Homo sapiens: one gene and its partner. The protein of the gene in region 1 purifies or fractionates together with the protein of each later gene. This does not show direct contact. Each region holds a gene or a part of one and is shown in the gene's direction. Other genes may lie near its edges.

Region 1 (3,831 bases):
TTATTTGCATGTGTCAGTATTTTCTTAAGATAGATTTAAGACTATTTTCTAGATATTGAACACCAATGTATATTTCCACTGAAAGAGTATGACAAGTTCCATGTCTACCCTTGGTGTATAGTTTAATTTTCTTAAATATTTTTCTTTTTATAGAGAAGTTACAATTTTATTCTTTTAATTTGCAGTTTAATGACTTAATGGAGTTAATATTTTTAGTGCTTATAGGTGATTTATATTTTTTCTTCTCCCAATTTTTATTATTCTTTATGTTTCCATTGAAAAGCTAATATGTTCCTTACTGATTTGGAGAATTTATACAGTAAAGACATTTAATTATTAAAACATCTTCTTGGTTAATAATTTTCGTTTTAATTCATTTATATTTTTTAAATTTAGCAGTGGTTGAATTATTGTGGCAAAATACATTGTTTTTTCCTTTAATTTTTTTCTTTCATTAAAAAAGAAATGATTTTACTTATTCAGGAATTAGATAAATATGTACCCATTTTTAACTTTTTTTATATTTAGTACTTTAATGTAGCTGAAACTGACTTATTTATGATATGAGGCAAGAATATAACCTGATTTTCCCTGTAATGTTATATATGTTTATGTGTGTATATACATATGTTTCCATATATTTATAGGTATACATTAATGTGTGATTTACGATGTGTACTTGGTTATATATTAAAGATATACATAATATACTCTGAGATCCGTTAGACTGTATTATGTACATTTTATATTGATTTGCTTACAGATGTTTTCCTCTAAGAATGACATTATTTCAAAGATTAAAGTTTTCTTTTTTGTTTTAATATCTAATAGGAAAAGCCCCTCCTCCTGCTAATGATATTTTATAAATTTGATTACTTAGGTTTGCCAGAACCCAATAAAGATGCCATCTTCCAAGGCCTGACGCAGGACCAGGGGTTTTATACATCCAAAGACTTTTTGCCACTTGTAGCCAAAGGCAGTAAAGCAGGTATAACATATTGTCTTTTATGCTTAATAGTGAGTATGCTATTTTATTTATGATAAATTAATATCAAAATCAAGCTCAGCAGCACATTGTTCAGCTCTCACACCCAACCTTGCCTAAGACCCAAATGTAAAATTAAAAAAAAAAAGGCCGGGTATAACAGTTTGCCAGAATCATCTGTTTGTTCATTCTTCCAATAAAGTATCATCGTAAGGAATTTTCACTGTAATATATATGTCTAAACTACATCATGAAAAATTGCTTCAAGGTAAGCAAGTCCTTAACAAACATTGGAAGATGTTTTTCAAAGAAATGGCATGAATCGTCACATATCTTATATGATTTGTATCTACACAGGCAGAAAGATTGACTGTCTTCTCTTAAACAGTAATTTTATGATGTTAAAATAAAATACTTTGATAGACACCCTATCACTTTATACACCCCAAGAAGAACCACCTGAATGAAGGTTGTACCTTGGTTTGGCCTGACCAGAGTCATTGTCTTTGGGGAAAATTGTAATATTTTATCCAAAGTCAGATAATCTAAATCCTTCAAATGTATATTTTTAAAGAGGTCTGAGCCACAGCTATTCCTACATTAATTACATGTAGAAATGATACAAACTTTTATGCTTCTCCCAGGACTTAAAACAGTAAGAAACTTTCTATATTAAATTATTCTTCAGAAGTTTACAGCTAAAGATGCATACCCTCTCCACCTTCTGCCTCTCAGTAGAACTGGATGTTTGTATGTCTGAAACCCTTTCTGAGGAAGGTCATAGTGCACCTAGCTTGTATTTGAAAATTACAGAGTGTCCCAAATACAAAATCTTCCAAGCAAAATGATTACACTTATTGAAATTATAGGTTTATTCTATTCTTGGTACCATTTAAAAAATTATAGTAATTGATCTTATAAACAGTTTTATTTAATCTTATTATACACTGCTACCTAACACATAAGGAATACTTGCATTTTACTTTTTTTACAAGGATCTTCATATGGACAGCAAATCTTAATAGAGATGACCTTGAGAAATGGATGCTTAGAAAGTCATATTTCTTTTACTGCCCAGTTTCACAAACAAAACCAGAGGAAAGCAGTGAAAGGGAGAAAGATTTATTTGAACTATTTCAAGAAAATAGTTCTCAGAAATTCTTCAGTTACATAAAGGACACTTATTCAGCACGTTAATATTCAAAGTTAACAAAATATATAACAGAGGTATGTGTTAGAAATTATATAAGGTAATACATAAAAAAGTATTATAATGAAATATTGCAAACCGTTAACACAGATCATAAGGATCACTTTTTTCTTCTAGCAAAAGGAAAATTATGCTGAGTTAAAGATAGATAGCACAATTTTGATGAAGAGAGTTTTAATTGATTGATTCCAGTCTGTTATGACCTAAACTTCTCAAAATGTGTTGTAGGAATCCTAGAAGAAAAAAGAAACTAAAGATACTGACTATGAAATTACATATATGAGCATATTTTTAAAATGGGAATAAAACTGTCTTTCAATGAAGCAGAATAATTTGATAGTGACACTTCATCCTGGAAAACTGCAAGATGCAATTTTACACTGCTTTGAGTACAAGTATCTTTTGAGCTGTCATGCAGAAATGGTTTCTCTACTTGAAAATGGGGTTTTCCTTTCATCATTCAGGAATGTGCGCCTGTCACTCTCCATTGCCATCGATACGGGGAGTCGTGATTGTACTTGGAGCTGGAGACACTGCCTTTGACTGTGCAACATCTGCTCTACGTTGTGGAGCTCGCCGTGTGTTCATCGTCTTCAGAAAAGGCTTTGTTAATATAAGAGCTGTCCCTGAGGAGGTAAAATGGAACCATCAGAAAATATGGAGTTGTACTCCAACAGATTTTAGGAGATGAAACTGTTAATGTTTAAATCGCTAGAATGTTGAAATTGTCAAATTCAAGTTTAAAAATTTCAGGGCTACACATAATTGTTTCTTTTCTAATTCAGACATTCCAAGTAAAAGAAAATTTGTAATACTGATTTGGGTAAAATGAGAAATTTAATCTTTGTCAATACTCAAGGGCTTCTTGTTAGTGTTAATATGCTTGAAATGTATTCTATGTAACTAGTAACAATGTAAAGTGCTAAGTCTTCCATATCCTGAATAGTAGGTACTCTTCACAAAATGTATGCATATTAGAAGAATGTGGTAATAAGACACATACGGAATTTTCCGTAAGCCAATTTACAGACTGCATTCTAAGATGTATACCTTGGTCATACTTTCAGTCAGTTCATTATTTGTGAAGCAAATAGAAAGAAAAGGGTGTCATGTATATTTTTAAAGTGCTCTAATATAAGCACTACTCAAAATTAGTAGTTAGTTAGCATACTAAAAATAACGTTTGGCTGTGCGCGGTGGCTCACGCCTGTAATCCCAGCACTTTGGGAGGCTGAGGCCGGCGGATCACAAGGTCAGGAGATCAAGACCATCCTGACTAACACGGTGAAACCCCGTCTCTACTAAAAATACAAAAAAATTAGCCGGGCGTGGTGGTGGGCGCCTGTAATCCCAGCTACTCAGGAGGCTGAGGCAGGAGAATGGCGTGAACCCGGGAGGCGGAGCTTGCAGTGAGCCCAGATCGTGCCACTGCACTCCAGCCTGGGTGACAGAGAGAGACTCTGTCTCAAAAAAATAGTAATAATAACATGTTTAAAATCATTTCATTCTTACCAGTGACTGGTGAGTAGTCTTGGGTGAGGTATCGGCTATTTACATGTACTACACACTTCTCAAATTTTAATGCTATTAGAGAAATATAATACCTTATAAAGAATATTAGTTCTGAGAACAAGAA
Region 2 (3,831 bases), on another chromosome or scaffold:
GCTGGAGCCAGGAGAGACCTGGGAGTCCCCTTTAGCATCCTTCTCCGTAGTCTCATGGCAGTTCTTATTAACTCTTGTCTTCCAGATGCTAGGCATGGTCCTGGACATGTCACAGAAATTACAGGTTGAGTATCTCTTATCTGAAATGCTTGGGACCAGAAGTGTTTTGGATTTAGGGTTTTTTCAAATTTTTGCATATTTGCATTGTCCTTACCAGTTGAGCATCTCTAATCTGAAAACTAAAATCTGGAAAGCTCCAATGAGTATTTCCTTTGGGTGTCACATTGGAGCTCAATAAGTTTCAGGGATGTGATTCCTGCCCTCAGGGAGCTCACAGTTGATGGGAAAGATAAGGCTCTAGCCCCTGGGAGAAAGTAAGTAGTACCTCAAGAGAGAGCAGAGGGCCAGGGAGACTTCAAGAGGAGGTGGCACTAAGAAGTGAGTCTGGGCCAGGCGCAGTGGTTCACACCTGTAATCCCAGCACTTTGGGAGGCCAAGGCGGGTTGGATCACCTGAGGTCAGGACATCAAGACCAGCCTAACATGGAAAAACCCCATCTCTACTAAAAATACAAAATTAGCCAGGTGTGGTGGCACACGCCTGTAATCCCAGCTACTGGGGAGGCTGAGGCAGGAGAATCACTTGAACCTGGGAGGCGGAAGTTGCAGTGAGCCAAGATCGTGCCATTGCACTCCAGCCTGGGCAACAAGAGCGAAATTCCGTCTCAAAAAAAAAAAAAAAAAAAAAAAAAAGTGAGTCTGGACCTGAAAAAATAAAAAATGAAAGCTTAGAAAGTTCTAGACAGAGGCAGCAGCATGAGCAAATGCTCAGAGGCCAGAAAGCCTGGAGATTGGGTGGGATATAGTCAGTAAAGAAGACCCGTGGGGATCAGTGAAGCCCATCAGTGGGAGGAGAGGTGGGAGTAAGCTTGGAAGGGTGGGTAGGGCCTTGAATGCCAGAGTAGGGAGTCTGGACTTGCCTCTGTGGCACCAGGGTGCACGGGTGGCCTGGGCAGAGGACTGGCATGGTGGGTGCTGTGCTTCAGGCTGATCCTTAGGGCAGCCTATCAAGAAGGCTTCTGATGGCCACAAATGAGCATGTTGTAGAGTGTGAGTTCTGCTAAGAAAACTTTCCCATTCTAGCTCAGAGTTAATTTATGCTTGGTTCAGATATGAACAAGGTTTCTGTTTCTAATTTTGATGTTTTTTTCCTTAAAAAAGAAATCAACAACAGTAAAAGCTTGAAATGGATACCATAATGAGGACAAGTAGGAGACAGCTCATAAGGTGGGGGTGGGGGGTAGATGAAAGTACAAATGTTCCTACCCAAAGAATGTCATCTCAGGAAAATATCAGATCATTTCTAAAGATACTTTTAGCCAACCTTTTACAAACACATGTTTTTCTATAATGACACTTCTGGTAAAAACAGCCATTTTTCTAAAAGCCTGCATGCACTAAGTTGTGGATGACATGCAGTTTTTTTTGTAAAGATATATTTCTAATAAATAACCATAACTTTCAGGCATGGCCTGCCTAGTGAGCTTTCTCTACATTGTTGCTATCATTACGTTCTCTTCCCCTATTTAAAGATCTGGACTTGTTGCCATCTCATGGGGCTGAGACTGACTACAGGAAATTTACTGAGATTGAGGAAAAAAGGAAAAAGAAGCAGTATTTGCCTTTGAGTACTTGGAAGCTCACTGATAAGCCCTGAGACACAGACACAAAGTGACTTCATTACAGTCTCCCCCGAGGATCCATCCCTGCCATCCCTCTCCCCTCCGCTCCCAACCCTACCCCGGTGATGAACTGCACAGACCTCTTACCGTCATCCTGGGCGGCAGCAGTCCTTTCTAGGGGCCTGTGGTATTGACATGCTTCAATGGAGGATGCATCACCTTTCCTTGATCATAATGAAAAAGTTCTCCAGATTAAAATGTTCCTACGCTCCCTTTCAGCAGTTGCATGCCCAGGTATCTGTCCTAGAGAGTCACTCCAGCATGTGCACATAGCACAGACCGGGACACAGTACCATGACACCAGTGAACAGTCTGAAACCACTGAGGTCTGTCAGCGTAGTTATGGCTAAAGACCAGTGTATCCTCACGATGGAATATCATGCAGCAATTTAAAAGAACAAGGTAGATCTACTTGGACCATCTCCAAGATGTATCAATAAATCATACAAAGCAAGTTTTAGAACAGCATGTTACTATTGATATCTGTGTGAAAAGCAAGCCGCCATACACACAAAACTGTGTATTACTTGAATTTCATGGGTAGACAGGGACTCATATATCTTTGTATGTGAATATCTTTAGATAAAATCTATGAAGCTACATCAAAGCAGTAACATCTGGGAGAGGAATAGGATTGGAGAACAGTATATCACTTCCTGTATATATATATATATGTATGTATATATGCATATGTATTTTTTACAATAAAAATATGTCTTACAGTCTTTAAAAGTAGACAGGGGTGTATGTGTCTTGAAGTAAAACATACTTTAAGACTCATTCTGAAGAATTCTGAAGACATTCTGAATAATGTCCATTTAGTTTGCAGCCATTGCTGACATCAGTGCGATACTGAAACCGTGCATAGGTCCCCCTCCCCATCACACACACACATGCACGTGCCTGCACAAAGACAATTTAAAGCCTAAATGTTGTGAAAGAATCATGTCTGCAGTGCCTGAATATTAGCCCAAAGATCATGAAATATATAGACAAAGCTGTAAGATTCTGTTTAATCTCTTGTTTGTGTTATGACTACATCCTAAGCCAGCCTATTCTAAAACACATATTTGGTCTTCTATTTTCAATTTTTTTTTTAACAGAAAAAATTTTGGCTGAAACACAACCTGAATTGGGAACGTGGGGAGATGGCAAAGGCGAAGATGAGTTATCCCCAGAAGAAATACAAATGGTAATGCTATTCTCTGCCTAATTATTTATTTTTAACTGGTTTTCATAAGACTGTTTCACTAAGGAGAAACTCATCCTCAATGCCCTTGCCCTTATTTTTATACTGAGTTTTAAAAATTATAAATGTGTATTTTATATACACTTTCCCATTTGATTTCCTAATTCTTACGGTGCTTTTCATATGCTTTAAATTTGCAGTAGCATAATTAAAGAAGACATTTTGCCTTGGAAGAATTTTACTAATAATAGATGTCTTTTCAACAACAGTAAAATAGTCTTCTAGACTAAATGGGTCTTTTATAAATGCCACTATGATGCTTTTTAATTGTTTGAATTGCTAGTGCTATGGTAATGTGAAAAAAGTAAGATAATGACTGAAAAGTGAAAAGAGTAACACCTTAACTACTGATAGCACCTCCTTTTAGTTACCTGCCTTCTGGTTTCCAGCTGCTATAGCTTACCATCTATGGGTGGGTTTCAAAAGGAACTGATAGGTCTGCCAAGCCCCTGCCAGCTCACGTCCAGCAATGTCTGTGTGCAGCTCATCTGGACACTGGTGTGACAGAAGCCAGATGGAATATGCTATCTGTGTGTGGGAATAGATGTCACCTAGAGCTGCTAGGATGTGACACTGTCCTCTAAGACGTGGGGAATGTGACTACCACACGGCACGCCTCCAGTGACTGTGCCTGGCAAGTGATAGCATTTTAAGTGTGCAGCAGTTTGCAGTAGACAAAACTTTTTGATTCTCATTTTATCCATGATACTTTTAATAATTGCACAAAGAGGTGGTGGAACATTAGCATCTCATTTTAACATTGGCAAAAGGCAGCAAAGGGTCTTGCCCAGAGTCCCCTAGTTAATCAGGGAAGAGCTGGATTTCCAGCCCTCAAGAAGAT

What was found.
Region 2: the proteins of DPYD (region 1) and STX18 fractionate together in Homo sapiens (co-fractionation; one large-scale study listed by BioGRID). This does not show direct contact.

What each region holds. Positions count from the first base shown.
Region 1 is NC_000001.11:97,592,216-97,596,046, reverse strand, and holds part of DPYD (dihydropyrimidine dehydrogenase [NADP(+)]), read left to right. Parts: intron 1-880; coding exon 881-988; intron 989-2,659; coding exon 2,660-2,829; intron 2,830-3,831.
Region 2 is NC_000004.12:4,433,872-4,437,702, reverse strand, and holds part of STX18 (syntaxin-18), read left to right. Parts: intron 1-2,844; coding exon 2,845-2,933; intron 2,934-3,831. UniProt on the Homo sapiens protein: Syntaxin that may be involved in targeting and fusion of Golgi-derived retrograde transport vesicles with the ER.